Linked DNA regions of Homo sapiens: region 1 is linked to region 2. A link means that fine-mapping ties the variant in region 2 to the expression of a gene that starts in the linked region. Tissue or cell type: left ventricle. Region 2 holds a variant in brackets; the other region holds the start of a gene. All regions are shown on one strand. Distances are from middle to middle.

What was found. PIP is the estimated chance that this variant, and not a neighbour inherited with it, causes the effect. A credible set is the group of variants that fine-mapping cannot tell apart.
Region 1: it holds the start of CYP4Z1, and the variant in region 2 is the best candidate, but not a certain one, in a credible set for the expression of CYP4Z1 in left ventricle (GTEx, PIP 0.55).

What each region holds. Positions count from the first base shown.
Region 1 is chr1:47,063,041-47,070,835 of GRCh38, reverse strand. It overlaps CYP4Z1 (cytochrome P450 family 4 subfamily Z member 1), which reads right to left and starts at 3,605. Exons shown (of 12, transcript NM_178134.3): 1 at 3,169-3,605; 2 at 2,073-2,214. The coding sequence starts at 3,345.
Region 2 is chr1:46,806,878-46,814,672 of GRCh38, reverse strand. It overlaps CYP4B1 (cytochrome P450 family 4 subfamily B member 1), which reads right to left. Exons shown (of 12, transcript NM_001099772.2): 2 at 3,724-3,865; 3 at 3,489-3,533; 4 at 2,050-2,177; 5 at 1,067-1,191; 6 at 610-764; 7 at 358-464. Among named protein-coding and RNA genes, the nearest start is that of CYP4B1, 12 kb to the right of the region's middle. The variant G/A (reference allele first, on the strand shown) is at 3,128.

The DNA.
Region 1 (7,795 bases), 260 kb before region 2:
TGTGACTCAGTAATTCCACTTTTTGGTATCAACTTGAAATAATTGAAAGGACCCAAACAGATATTTGTACATGCATGTTCATGACAGCATTATTCACAAAAGCCAACTGATAGAAGTTATCCAAGTGTCCATTGTCAGAGGAATGGATAAACAAAATGTGGTACATACATACAATGGAAATTCAGCCTTAAAAAGAAAGGACGTTTTGATATATACTACAACATGGATGAACCTTGAGGACATTATGCTACATGAAATAAGCCAGTTACAAAAGGACAATATTGTATGGTTCTACTTATGGAGGTACCTAGAATAGGGAAATTTAAAAAGACAGAAAGTAGAATGGTTGTTGCCTGAGGCTGGGGGGAGGGGAAAATGGGGAGTTAGAGTTTAATGTGTACAGAGTTCCAGTTTGGGAAGATGAAAAAGTTCTGAAGATGGATGGCGGTGATAGTTGCACAACAATGTAAATGTATTTAATGCCATTAAATTGTATACTTAAAAGTGATTTAAAATGGTAAATTTTTAGTTTATGTATATTTTACCACAATAAAATGAATGTAATTAAAAGAAAAGCACATATGGGAATATGATATCAATTAATGACACTAGAGAAGGGTACAATGGGTGTTCAAAATTTCTCTTGTAGGGTTGAAAATTTTCAAAATAAAAAGCTGGGGATAAGATGATTTGGGTGGGTCTGGCCAGAAATAATAAGAGCAGGATTCTCAGCTCTCCTTTTTTGGCCACCGTGCTTCTGCAGTGGGACTCAAAAAGAAGTACTAATGTGTGGCAGATAAATAACTTAACATCCCATACTCTGTATATTATTCTGCTCTTTTCTCATGTAACTGTACAGTTATCACACTTCAAGGCATAAAATTATCCTTTTCTCTGAGGAGGAGACAATTTTAGGCACCAGCAGGGAATACAAACCAAAGGAAAAGAAAACAAAACAGTAAGAGAAAAAAAGCAAGAGAGGGAGAGAAATTCTTGGCTTCTCTGGGAAGGAGCTAAGGTTGTGAGTTGAAGACAATGGGGACTGAAGAAAATATGAACAGGAAGGATGGCTTTCCCTGTATGGCCTGCCCAGATGCCCTTACAACCAACCACAAAAAAAGAAAAACAGCCAGAAACTAAGCCTCCCTTCTCAAGGGAGTGAACACACTGAAGAGAGAATTTGTAGATAAAGAAGAGAAAATAACTCCAAAGGAGAAACAATCACTTTCCTCTTTCATCCCTTTTGGGCAAAGGTCCAAAGGTGAGAGCAGAGCATAAAGGGGAGCAGAGTAAAGTTTGAAACTGGATAGCCAGACATTTCTTGCACCATTACCAGGAAGAAAGCTGAGATGGTGATTCTGGCAGAGTGCCCTGTGAAATGAGAGAGCCACAGGCTGCTTGAAATTTTGCAGAAGCACCAAGAGTGGTATGGAGGCATTTTATAACTGAATGACTCATGTAGGTAGCTGGGAGAGTGAGGCGAAGGCCAGCCTTATATGCCAACAGGCAGTTGAGGAAAGCCCAGTGGGGGAATCCTACACACATCTTGCCACGGCCAAGAAGCAGCTCTGCAATTCCACGGAATTCCCACACTAGGGACCAGATGGAGAACTGGTGTCCACTTGCCAGAGCCTCCAACCTGGCACTGGCCATTCCCAGAGGACAGGCAACATTAGTGGGCAAAGCATCTATGGGGAACACTCATCTCTGTGCAGCACTGGCGTTAAGCCAATTGTAAGCAAACCACCACTGCATGCCCAACCCACTGTATGTTCACAGTGATGGTAAGTGGTAGTCCTGGGGGTCTGAGGTAAGTAAATGTGATGGAAGCATCAGAAAAAATTTGCCATGTAGGGAGAGAAGATTGCTTGAAAATGGATCAGAGAATCCTCTACAACAGCCCTCAATAGAGTCCTGACTATGATGTTGAGGAGGACATGGAATCTTCCCTTCAACATATCAAATGATGGATTTCCCTTAAAAATGCTTCAACCTGTCCTTCCCTAGTGCCACAGACACCCTGAGACCCTCTTTGTTGCTGCTCTGTACTGTGAGCCCCTCTTGGTTTTTACCTTGTCTTTTCAGGAGAATCTTGGCATAGTCTGGGTCATGGACACTGAAGAACATCGTAAAGGGTCCAACCCACAAGGGAACAGCACATGGGTATTTTTCCATCAGCTTATGATACACCTCAAACTCCTTTACTGGGTAAAACTGTCATAAGATAAGTCATGACTGGTTAGTAAAGGTTGTCACCCCAGGAGGACCCCTTTCCCTCGGATGGACCATGTGCTAAGTTGAGGATCTGTGGACACCACCCCATCAGACAGGTTCACATCTGTTGAAGGCAAGTTTTCTTCTCCATGTGTCTCCAGCACCTCCACAGAATCTTCGTGGCCCTGGGCAAGTGCTCAGGACCTGTTGCTGAGCGATTGGTCTTCTCACTCCAGCGTCAACTTTGGAGATTTAAGTTCAAATCCCAATCTGACACTTATTCATTATCTAGGTCATCAGGGCCATGATTTCCTCACGTGTATAATAGGAAGACCAAATATATTTTACAAAGCTGCCATGAAAATTAAGTGAAATTATAAACATAAAATTCCTGGCACAAGGTAAACCGTTAGTAACCACTGATGCCCTACCTCATCTTTGCTCTGGATATACCCACTCATGCTTTATCTGCCTCCAAAGCAGCGAAGTCTCACATGCCTTTTACTCCTTTTGGTTGCTGCTCATCTTTCAACTTTCCTTTCTAATTTGCTAAATGTTTTCCTATTTCCAGCTTCATTAGAAGCTGTAGCATCTTGGTATAGTTCCTGTTAACAATTGGCTTGGTCTATTTCTCTCTAGAACACCCAGAGTCCTGAGAATAGTAAAGACCTTGGCCTTGAATCAGAAGACCAGGGTTCAAGTTTCATTTCTGTCATTTATGAGGTGGGTAGCACAGGAAAGTTGCATTTCTATTTTAGGCTTCAGTTTTCTTATCTGTAAAACAGGAATAACAATATCTTTCCTCCCCATATCATAGAATTTTTGTAAAAATCACAATGAGATTGGTGTGAAAGCATTTTGCATATTACATAATGCCCCACCAGTCTGTGCTGTTTTTTTTTAATACCTCATCTTTCTGTCCCTTAACCTCCCCAACTAATTTTCTCCTCTTACCTCCTTGTGGCCATAGAACCAGTGGGCAGGGGGTGCAGGAAACAGGTGCAGGGCTCTGATCATCCATCTCCTCCTCTGGTACAACCTGATTACCTGAAACAGCAGCAGAGACATGCAGAGGAGGATCAGCAGCAAGAAGGGGTGAGCCATGAGTTCCTGAAGCCAGGAGGGCTCCATTCTTCTCAGAGGTCCTGAGCTCTGGAGAGCCTGAGAGAACTGAGCCAGGGAGAATGCAGGTCTCTCATAAACACAAAGGAGATGCCCCCTGGGCAACACTGGGCTTTCAAAATGCCATATTCAGGGAGGGGACATAAGGAAGAGGAAGCCTAATTAAGTCTGCAGGGTGAAAACTGCTGAGATGTTGGCCAGCAGACCTGGATTCTAGAAGAACAAGATTTTCAGATAGGAGCCATGTGCATGACAGCTCACACCCATATGAAAGCTTTGCTGCACTGCTGTCCCCTTCCAGAATCTAAAAGTTCCCATCTAGTCATCCTTTGTCACACCTCTATACATTCTTGTAAAAAATCTCCCCCACTCTCATTCTCTGTTCTTTTTTGTTTATGTTTCTGATAGAATTTATCTTTCTAGAGAAGTTTCAAGTTCACAGAAAAATTAAGCAGAAAGTTCAGGGAGTTCCCATATATCACCCCTCCCTTCCAGCTTCCCTGATTATCAAAATCCTCCACCAGAGTATAACACTTGTTACATTTAATGAACCTACAATGACACATTATCGTCACCCAAAATCTTAGGTATATACCTAAGTTTTTTTTTTTTCTATTTTGAAAGGGGTTGAGTTCTTGATTTGATTCTCAGCTTGGTTGCTGCTGGTGTACAGCAGAGCTACTTATTTGTGTATATTAATTTTGCATCCTGTAGGAGCTTTTTGGATGAGTCTTTAGGCTTTTCTAGGTATACGATCATATCATCAGCAAACAGTGACAGTTTGACCTCCTTTTTACCAATTTGAATGCCCTTTATTTCTTCCTTTTGTCTGATTGCTCTGGCTAGGACTTCCAGTACTATGTTGAATAGAAGTGGTGAAAGTGGGCATCCTTCTCTTGTTCCAGTTCTCAAGGAGAATGCTTTCTACTTTTCCCCTTTCAGTATAATGTTGGCTGTGGGTTTATTGTTATGTGGCTTTTATTACCTTAAGGTGTGCCAGTTTTGTTGATGAGAGTTTTAATCATAAAGGGATGCTGGATTTTGTTAAATGCTTTTTCTGCAGCTATTGAGATGATCATGTGGTTTTGTTTTTAATTCTGTTTATGTGGTGTATCACATTTATTGACTTGGGTATGTTAAATCATCCCTGCATCCCACTTGATTATGGTGGATTATCTTTTTGATATGCTGTTGGATTCAGTTCACTAGTATTTGATTGAGGATTTTTGCATCTATGTTCATCAAAGATGTTGGTCTGTAGTTTTCTTTTTTTGTTATGTCATTCCCTGGTTTCGGTATTAGGATGATACTGGCTTCACAGAGTGATTTAGGGAGGATGCTCTCTTTCTCTATCTTGTGGAATAGTGTCTATAGAATTGGTACCACTTCTTCTTTGAATGTGTGATAGAATTCAACTGTAAATCCATCTGGTCCTGGACTTTTTTTTTGTTGGTATTAAAAAAAATTACAATTTCAATCTCACTGCTTGTTATTGGTCTGTTCGGCGATTCTATATCTTCCTGGTTTAACCTAGGAGGGTGGTATATTTTCAGGAATTTATCCATCTCCTCTAGGTTTTCTAGTTTATGCATATAAAGGCATTCATGGAAGTCTTGAATAATCTTTTGTATTTCTCTGGTATCAGTTTGTAATAGCTCCTGTTTCATTTCTAATTGAGTTTATTTGGATCTTCTCTCTTGTTTACTTCGTTAATCTCACTAATGGTTCATCAATTTTATTTATCTCTTCAAAGAACCAGGTTTTTCATTTCATTTATTTTTTGTATTTTTTTTGTTTCAATTTCATTTAGTTCTGCCCTGATCTTTGTTATTTCTTTTCTTCTGCTGGGTTTGAGTTTTGATTGTTCTTTCTCCAGTTCTGTGAGGTGTGACCTTAGATTGTCTATTTTTGCTCTTTCAGACTTTTTGATATAGGCATTTGATGCTATAAACTTTCCTCCTAGCACTGCTTTTGCTGTATCTTAGGGTTTTTGATAGGTTGTGTCACTATTATTGTTCAGTTTAAAGAATTTTTAAATTTCCATCTTGATTTCATTGTTGACCCCAAAATTATTCAGGAGTAGGTTATTTATTTTCCATGTATTTTCATGATTTTGAGGGTTCCTTTTGGAGTTGACTTCCAATTTTTTTTCCATTGTGGTTTGAGAGAGTACTTGATATAATTTTGATTTTCTTAAATTTACTGAGACTTGTTTTGTGGCCTATCATATGGTTTATCTTGGAGAATGTTCTATGTACAGATGAATAGAATGTATATTCTGCAATTGTTGGGTAGAATGTTCGTTAATATCTGTTAAGTCCATTTGTTGTAGGGTATAGTTTAGGTCCATTGTTTCTGTGTTGATTTTCTGTCTTGATGACCGGTCTAGTGCTGTCCATGGAGTATTAAAGTCCCCCACTATTATTGTGTTGTTGTTTATCGCATAGTAATTGTTTTATAAATTTGGGCGTTTCAGTGTTAGGTGCATATATATTTAGAATTGCAGTATTTTTCTGTTGGACTAATCCTTTTATCATTATATAATGTCCCTTTTTGTCTTTTTAAACTGCTGTTGCTTTAAAGTTGTTATGTCTGGTATAAGAACAGCTACTCCTGCTCACTTTTGGTGTCCATTTGCATAGAATATCTTTTTCCACTTACCTTAAGTTCATGTCAGTCCTTATGTGTTAGGTGAGTCTCCTGAAGACAGCAGAAATTTGGTTGGTAATTTCTTATCCATTCTGCTGTTCTGTTTCTTTTAAGTAGAGCATTTGGGCCATTTACACTCAATATTAGTATTGATATGTGAGGTACTAGTCTACTCATCATGCTATTTGTTGCCTGAATAACCTTGTTTTTTTTTAATTGAGTTTTTGTTATGTAGATCCTGTGAGATTTATGCTTTAAGGAGGTTCTATTTTTGTGTATTTTGAGAATTTGTTTCAAGATTTAGAGCTTTGAGCAGTTCTTTTAGTGCTGGCTTGGTAGTAGTGAATTCTCTCAGCATTTGTTTGTCTGGAAAAGACTATCTTTCCTTCATTGATGAAGGTTAGTTTCACTGGATACAAAATTCTTGGCTGACCATTGTTTTGTTTAAGGAGGCTAAAAATAGGACCCTAGGCTGGGCACTGTGGCTCCGTCTGTAATCCCAGCACTTTGGGAAGCTGAGGTGGGTGGATCACGAGGTCAGGAGATCGAGACCATCCTGGCCAACATGGTGAAACCCCATCTCTACTAAAAATAGAAAAATTAGCCAGGCGTGTGGTGGTGTGCCCTGTAGTCCCAGCTACTCAGGAGGCTGAGGCAGGAGAATCACTTGAACCCAGGAGGCAGAGGTTGCAGTGAGCTGGGATCGCGCCACTGCACTCCAGTGTGGGCAACAGAGTGAGACTCTATCTCAAAAAAAAAAAAAAAAAAAAGGACCCAAATCCCTTCTAACTTGTAGGGTTTCTGCTGAGAAATCTGCTGTTAATCTGATAGGTTTTTCTTGACAGGTTACCTGACACTTTTGCCTCACAGTTCTTAAGATTCTTTCCTTCATCTTGACTTCAGATAACCTGATGGCTATGTGCCTAGGTGATGAACTTTTTGTGATGAATTTCCCAGGTGTTCTTTGAGCTTCTTTTATTGGGATGTCTAGATCTCCAGCAAGGCCAGGGAAGTTTTTCTTGATTATTCCCTCAAATATGTTTTCCAAATTTTAGATTTCTCTTTTTCCTTGGGAACACCAATTATTCTTAGTTTTGGACATATAACGTAGTCCCAAATTTTTGGAGGCTTTGTTTATTTTTAAAAATTATTTTGCTTTGTCTTTGATGGGTAGGGTTAATTTGAAAGACTTGTCTTTGAGCTGTTAAGGCCTTGCTTCTGCTTGTTTGATTTTATTGCTGAGACTTTCCAGTGTATTTTGCATTTCTGTAAGTGTGTGTTCAGTTTCCAGAAGTTGTGATTGTTTTTTATTTGTGCAATCTATTTCACTGAAGAATTTTCCTTTCATATCCTGTATCATGTTTTTGATTTCTTTAAGTTGGACTTCACCTTTCTCTGGTGCCTCCTTGATTAGCTTAATAATCAACCTTCTGAATACTTTTTCTGGCAATTCAGAGATTTTGTCTTAGTTTGGATCCATTGCTGGTAAGCTGATATGATCTCTTGGGGGTGTGAAAAAACCTTGTTTTGTCATATTACCAGAATTGTTTTTTTCTGGTTCCTTCTTATTTTGATAGACTATGTCAGAGGGAAGATCTGGGATTCAAGGGCTGCTGTTCAGATTATTTTGTCCCAAGGGGTGCTCCCTTGATGTGATGTTCTCCCCCTTCCCCTAGGAGTGGGGCTTCCTGAGAGCCAAACTGTAGTGATTATTTTTGCTCTTCTGGGTCTAGCCACCCAGCAGAGCTACGAGGCTCTAGGCTGCTACTGGGGAGTGTCTGTAAAGAGTCCTATGATGTGATCCATCTTC
Region 2 (7,795 bases):
AACTCAGTGAGTTTCTAGAATTGATGAATAAAGAACTTACTGAATGAATGAATGAATGAATGAAGTCTAAGATTCTAGGATTCTACAAGGCCAACATTTTGGGGGATCTTAGAAGTCTAGAAATGTCGTCCAGCCACTACCACGTGACCTAGGCTCCCAACTCCACAGCTCAGGCACACACACCCTACACCTGCCCACCTCTGAACCCCTGCTAATATGTTTCATGGGACGAGGAACAGGTTATATTTGCTGAGGAAAGGGGGAAATGCTTAAGAGCTCCTTCTGCTGTCCTGGGAGGATGGTTGAAGACCTCTCTGGGACCAGTCCTCAGGTAGGGGTGGGCAACAATGTACTCACCCGGGCACCCAGGAGAATGTCCAGGAAGTCCAGGTGCCTCCGGTTCTGGATCTTCTTCCGCACCTTCTCATCCTGCAGGGCTGCCTTCCGCTCCCTGATGACCTGGTCTGAACCAAAAGCACAGAGTGTCACTGCCTGGGAAGCCATCTTTTGTCCAAAGGGGAACTGGGGTCCTATAATGGGAGGGGGCATAGAGGGGCCAGGAGGAGGAACCCAGGCTTCCTAGAGGTGAGCCTTGTGGGAAAGGCCCACCTGTATGGTCATGGGCCACCTGGCAGGCCCGCAGGAAGCGGCGGCCATGTGGGGTGAGCCAGTAGATGAAGTCATTATGGTACTGGAAGGACACAAGGCGCTGCTGCATCAACAGAGTGAGATCGCTGACTGCAAGGTAGTAGCTGCTGTCCCTGCTAAGCAGAGGGTAGGAGGAGGGATTGGCTTAGACACTGGCCCAGGAGCAGAGCCAGAGAAACTCCATTCCAGGAATCTAGCCCCAACCACAGAGCATCCTGCTCTTCTTCTCCCTGCCCTTAAGCCTCCTTGCTAAAGCCAGGTGTTTACCCCACCATGAGCAGGTCCTGTCTCCCCGCAAGCTAAGGCTCCCTGGGGCAGGACCCTATCTCTTCTCAGATCAGAGCCCAGGACCCCTGCCAACTCTCCCCTCTAAGATGGCTTTGGAGACAGTGCGGTCAGCCCCGAGGTGGCTCCTGACCTGTGGCCCAGGCCGGTGTCTCCTCTTCCAAAGGTGCACTTCATGAGTGTGTTCAGCGCCATGTGACCCACATCGCAGAAGATGTCAAAGGACTTACCCTCCCGAGCTTTCTCTTCCCACTTGTCCTGGAGTCCAGGGATAGGAGGCAATGTGTAGGAGGCGATGCAGGGGTTAGTTGGGCTGGATGCCCCAAGCTGCCCTCCAGGACCCGTAGCCTATCCTCCACCACCAAGCCCCCTTCACACACTCCCAGTCCCTGTCCTGCCCTCCATCCTGCTGGAATATCAGGATAGGGTGGGTAGAAGTTTGGAAGCCTCTGGGCTTCAGGCTCAGAGGGCAGGACCAGGAGGCAGATCTTGCACAGCACACAGACGTTTTCTCCCAGTCAGGGCAGCCTATAAGGGAGTAGGATGGCTGAGAGGTGGTGAGCTCCCCCGCATGGTGTATATGTAAGTAATCCTGGAGGGGAGTTTCCTACAAGGGGAAAGACTAGCCTGGATAACTTAGGGATTACCCAGCCCTAAGACTCTAACCCTGACCTCTGACATCCCTCTTAGAGATGAGTTGTATTGACATAATTCTGGGCAGCTGTGGTAGACAGAAAATGAGGAGACACGTTTTAGATGTGAAAGCCTTTCCCCATACTCTCAAATATAGGCAGTCCTCAAACCTGCTATGCTAGGAGCCTTATTAAGTTCTCACAGAGACCCTTTGGCCTGGGAGGAAAGAGGGCTGGGTCTCCTGGTGGAGACAAGGATCGGGCTGCCAGGACACTTAGAGATTCAGCACCGACTCAGTGGCAGCCTGCGGCACATGTCAGTAGAGCAGGGCTTTGGCACTGCTGTTGCAGGCAGAACAGGCCTTGGGGCTCAGCTATTCTCCTTACTGCAGAGCACCACCTACTCTCCCCAGGACAAAATCAGGGTGGAGAGGGGCTAGCCCAGCAGGCAACAGCCTCCAGTACTCTGGCACAGGGAGCTCACCAGCATGATACGTGTAGACTCAGTGAACACGGCCACATAGGGCTTCAGCACATCATAATGAAAGCCAGGTGTGAGCAGCTTGCGGTGCTGCAACCACTTGGGCCCCTCAAGAACCAGCAGGCCTCTCCCTGGGGAAGGGATGGGAGAGAGAGGGCTGGTCAGTCCAGGCCCTGGCAGCCTGGGGCTAAGCACATCCTACACGACTCCATCCCTGAGCCTGGAACCCTCCAAGGGTGGGCCACTAAGCGACCCAGTATTGCCCTCCATGCCCTCACCCTAGGCTACCAGGACCTCAGGAGACAGGTGGCAGCAGTTCTTGGCTGAGTGAGCTCCTTCCTTAGGACAGGATAACTCAGTTTCTGTATCTCAGCTGCACCCACAAAGCCTGGGTCCAGGAACTTGTGTCAGATGACATTGCCAGATGTGAGACAAAGGACACGCATCCCCCTGGGGACAGCCAAGCAGAGGGGGAGCCTGCTGAGCCTTGACTCTCAGCTGCTGAGACTGGCCACAGCTTCAGGACTTAGGGAATGTCCCACCGTGTTCGTGCTTCATGGCCTCAGGTGGGACCCTTCCTACCCCACTCCAACACACCCAGCAATGGAAATGCATTCCTGTCTTCAAAACCACCTCTTCATTTTCCTAACCCTTTTCTGTCTGCCTTCTAATTTTATCCTCCCATTGATAACTAAAAAGAGGGTTAGAAGCAAAAAGTCTTCCCAGTGGTACTCGGTGAGTAAATAGGATTGGGAATGTGTTCTCCCTCTTGGCCCTGCCCTTTCTCAGCTCCCAGGAAAACGCTGAAGACACCATAGGATCATGAGTAAAAGAGGAGCTTTGGAGAAGCATATGGCCTTGGCTAAAGAATACTCAATGGCTTTAACTTGAGTACCTCTGTAAAGGAAAAAGTAAAATAAAATAAAATAAAATACTCAATGACTCCCACCTACTCTCAACATCAAATCACCTCCTTATCCTGGCAGTCAAGGCTGGCCTGTCCTCCCTGCCCAGCATCATCTCCAAGCTGGGCTCTGCCTTGTAGCCACCCCGACAGCCTCACAGCCTCTGGTGACCAGCC[G/A]TGGTCCTACCACCACACCATTTCCTTAGGCCCTTGCCCTGGCCAGCACTACCTATTTAAATCTCCTTTTGGATCAACTCTAGTGCCACCTCCTTCAGGAAACTGTTCTTCGCACTCACACATTCTCCAAAGCCTTTGCCCTGTCTAGAGAATCAGGCCCTGCCAGAGAAGATGCCTTGGCCCCACAGCTGGGGGCTCTCCTGCTCCTCCCTTGTCTCTCCACTGAGCAGCTGAGCTTAGGATGGGCACCCGAGAACTAGGCCATCTGGGATAACCAATTGAGTGGGACAGGCCAGGATCCTAGTCACCCAGCACCACGGGTCTGAGGTTGGCAGGGCAGGGAAGGCAGGTGCTCACTCACCAATCCACTGGAGGAAGAAGTCATACACATCAGGGGCCTTAGGGTCTGCAGGAGGAGACAATCAGGTCAAGCAGGGACCCGGGGTTCCTAGAGGAGGCTCATTTATGAGTAGGGTGGGAACCTCAGCTCCGCAGACTTAGTACACAGGCCCAGGCTTCCTCCCCATATCATGCCCTGAGCCCTTTGTTCTCAGGAAGCCCCACCCTCTCCTGAGATCCCCATCCTCTCTCCTCACCCCCACGGCTGTACACAGCTTTGGCATAGTCAGGCTCATAGATGTTCAGGAAGCCAATGAACTGTCCGAACCAGAGTGGGTGGGCATACGGGAACTGGTGGGCCCAGGACACCACTTTGTCCAGGCTCCCCGTCTCCTGGATCTGAAATGATGACAGAAGGCCAAGGTCACTCAGGAACACATTGTCACCAGCTAGGCCCCAAGTCCCTGGGAGGGCAGGGGAGAAGGCTGCCCAGGCAGGCCCTGGTTGCTTCCTTACCTCTCCTGCACCCTCTTCTCCTAAACATCCCTGGGCTTAGTCCCCTCTCCAGCCCCACAACCACTGCTCTAATTCCAAGCCGCCCTCTTCTCACACCGGGGTTAGCTCAACATCCCCAAAGTAGCCAACCTGCTTCCATTTAGCACCTGCCACCAACTCTCTACTGCACTGCAGCCAGAAAGTGCTTTCTTCTCCACATTAAAGCTCTTTAATTATAAAGATAGGTAATATTTGCTCATTGTGCAATAGAGAAATGGCCTCAATTCCACCCCTGCCGTATCGTTCAACACATTTTTATTGAGGGCCTACATGTGCAGGGCTCTGTTCTAGACATCTCAGGGGAATGAGACAGACAAGTTCTGCCCTTTCATTCTATGGAGAAGACAGATAATAGACAAGTAGACAATTAAGTAAAATAATCACAGACAATAGTGAGTGCTCAGAATAAAAACAGTGCTATGAGAGACACTAACAGGGAGGGCCTGCTTAGATAGGGTAATCTTGGAAGGCTTCTTGTTGGAGACAACATTTAAGGTGAAACTTGAAGGATGGTGAGTCTCTGGCCATGTGAAGCATAAAGGAAAAGCATTCCAGGTGAGAAAACAGAAAGCACAAACGCGCTGGGTTGGGAAAGATCATGGTGTCTTCCAGGAGCTGCCCCATGGTGGGACAGTCACCTGGGATGAGCTTGAATAGGTCATCCAGAGGGTGGTACATGTCCTTTGGAGGTTTTTCTAGTCACGTTTACTCACCCAGAGGTGTTTTAAGTAAATGAAGTTATACAATAAATATTTTTGCAAAACCAGCCATTTTTCATTGAACATAACTTGTCCTCCTTTCCAAGCTAGTGCACTTAACTGTCATTACTATTTTTAACAGTTGTGTAGTATTTCACTATAAGGATGTACCATAATGTATTTAACTATTTTTCCCCATTTAGTGGGAGTCTTTCAAAGATACACTTAACACTCCTAGTGGCCTGCCCAGGGGCCTTGGAAAAGGTCCAAGCTCTGGAGTTTGTGGGGAGGCATGGTAATGACTAATCTTTATTAAGCACTTGCTGTGTGCTAGACCTTGTTCTAAGCACCTTACATTTTGACCTGATTGAATCCTCACAACAACTCTAAGTGGTCCCATTTTAGGGAAGAGGAGCCTAAGGAATAGAGAGGTTAGGTTACAGTCCCATAAAATTCCTGTTGAGGCCTGAGCCTGTGCTGGGCCTGCTTTTTCTCTCCGTAAAATTCTCTCTCACAATTGCCACCTATTCACTGATAGTATCCAAACAAATTAGGAAGGGAAAAATGTCCAAACCTTAATAATTTGGACATTTGTCCCCTCCTAATCTCATTTTGAAATCTGATCTCCAATGTTGGAGGTGGGGCCTCATGGGAGGTGTTGGCATCATAGGGGTGGATCCCTCATGAATGGCCCTGGGGCCATTCTGGCAGGATTGAGTGAGTTCTCTTAGTTCCCATGAGAGCTTTTTTTTGTTTTGTTTTGTTTTGTTTTTTTTTAAGGATTTTGCATATTGTTTATTTTTTTGTTTTTTGTTTGTTTTTTGGGTTTTTTTTATTATACTTTAAGTTTTAGGGTACATGTGCACATTGTGCAGGTTAGTTACATATGTATACATGTGCCATGCTGGTGCGCTGCACCCACTAACTCGTCATCTAGCATTATGTATATCTCCCAATGCTACCCCTCCCCCCTCCCCCCACCCCACCACAGTCCCCAGAGTGTGATATTCCCCTTCCTGTGTCCATGTGATCTCATTGTTCAATTCCCACCTATGAGTGAGAATATGCGGTGTTTGGTTTTTTGTTCTTGCGATAGTTTACTGAGAATGATGATTTCCAATTTCATCCATGTCCCTACAAAGGACATGAACTCATCATTTTTTATGGCTGCATAGTATTCCATGGTGTATATGTGCCCCATTTTCTTAATCCAGTCTATCATTGTTGGACCTTTGGGTTGGTTCCAAGTCTTTGCTATTGTGAATAATGCCGCAATAAACATACGTGTGCATGTGTCTTTATAGCAGCATGATTTATAGTCCTTTGGGTATATACCCAGTAATGGGAGGGCTGCAGGCAACCTACAAAATGGGAGAAAATTTTCGCAACCTACTCATCTGACAAAGGGCTAATATCCAGAATCTACAATGAACTCAAACAAATTTACAAGAAAAAAACAAACAACCCCATCAAAAAGTGGGCGAAGGACATGAACAGACACTTCTCAAAAGAAGACATTTATGCAGCCAAAAAACACATGAAAAAATGCTCATCATCACTGGCCATCAGAGAAATGCAAATCAAAACCACAATGAGATACCATCTCACACCAGTTAGAATGACAATCATTAAAAAGTCAGGAAACAACAGGTGCTGGAGAGGATGTGGAGAAATAGGAACACTTTTACACTGTTGGTGGGACTGTAAACTAGTTCAATCATTGTGGAAGTCAGTGTGGCGATTCCTCAGGGATCTAGAACTAGAAATACCATTTGAGAGCTGTTTGTTAAAAAGAGTCTGGCACCTCTCTCTCTCTCTCTCTCTTTCTCCTTTCCTCCTCTCTTGCCATGTGATGTCTGCTCTTCCTCATGAATAGCAGTTTCCTAAAGCTCCTCCTCATGAATAGCAGTTTCACCAGAAGCAGATATTGACCATGCCTCCTGTACAGCCTGTGGAACTGTGAGCCAAATAAACCTTTTACCCAGTCTCAGGTATTCATTTACAGCAACACAAAGGACTAAGACATCCATGTTGTATCTTCCAGGGAACATTCTTAAAGAAGGACACAGGCATCTGATAATGTAGCCCCCAGGGATCCTTTCTGGCCCAAGCCACTATCTCCAAGGGCTCATGGGATTGGGCCTATTTTGGCCTCCAGCCACCCGTCTGTGCCTTCTCTAGGGCTCTTCCCCTCCTAGGCCCTCTGTGGAGTCGTCTGTAATCATCCCATTGATCCCTTCCCTCACTGCCTCTGAACGCAGAATCCTGAGTTCAACCCAACAGGGCTGTAAGAGTTTTCACTGCCCTTGAGTACACGATGTCAAAAAGAACACAAAGTGATAAAAATCATCTCCACCCACAGGCAAGGGGAAACATTCTTGTATGCCTGCCTCCCTCCTGGCTGGTATCCCTGGAAGTGCTCCTTTCCCTGGTGTCTGTCTTATTTTTCCATCTGCCCTCCTGGGTTTTCCTTGCCAACTTCCTGGTCACCTGGCCATTCCCCTTCTCTCCATCCCTACCAGGTCCAGAAAGCCCAATTGGATGGGTCAAGGAAAGGCTTAAGTCACAAAAAAGCCAGACTCATAGGATCTTAGGATTGGAAGGAGCCTTTGGCTGATCTGGTTCATCCAAGCCCCACTTCCCTCCTTATCAGCTATGCTTGTGCACCTCTGCAGCAACCCCACAAGGGACAGTAGACCCTGGTCTCATGCTGACCACATTCACAACCTGTGCCCTGATCGAGGTCGCAGCCAGCTTGCCACTGCCTCCCTGTGCCCAGCTTTCTCCTAGCTCTTTAGATTTATTTAAGAAATAAAGAAAACTAAGATAAATAAAAAACATGTGCATGAGCCCAAGCGATGGCCAAACTTTTAAATAAAGCTAGAGAACTAGAAGCACCTGCCAGGCACCTGCCTTGATTACCCCGGGAGCCTGGTAAGAAGGAGGACAGCTCCCAGCACCTGGTCCCACTATTGCAGCTGCAGCCCCTCAAGAGGGCTGAGGCATCCTCCCTGTGGGGTACACGTGACTGCCTGGACAGTTCCTCTGGATTACACAACTGCATGCCTCAGACTCG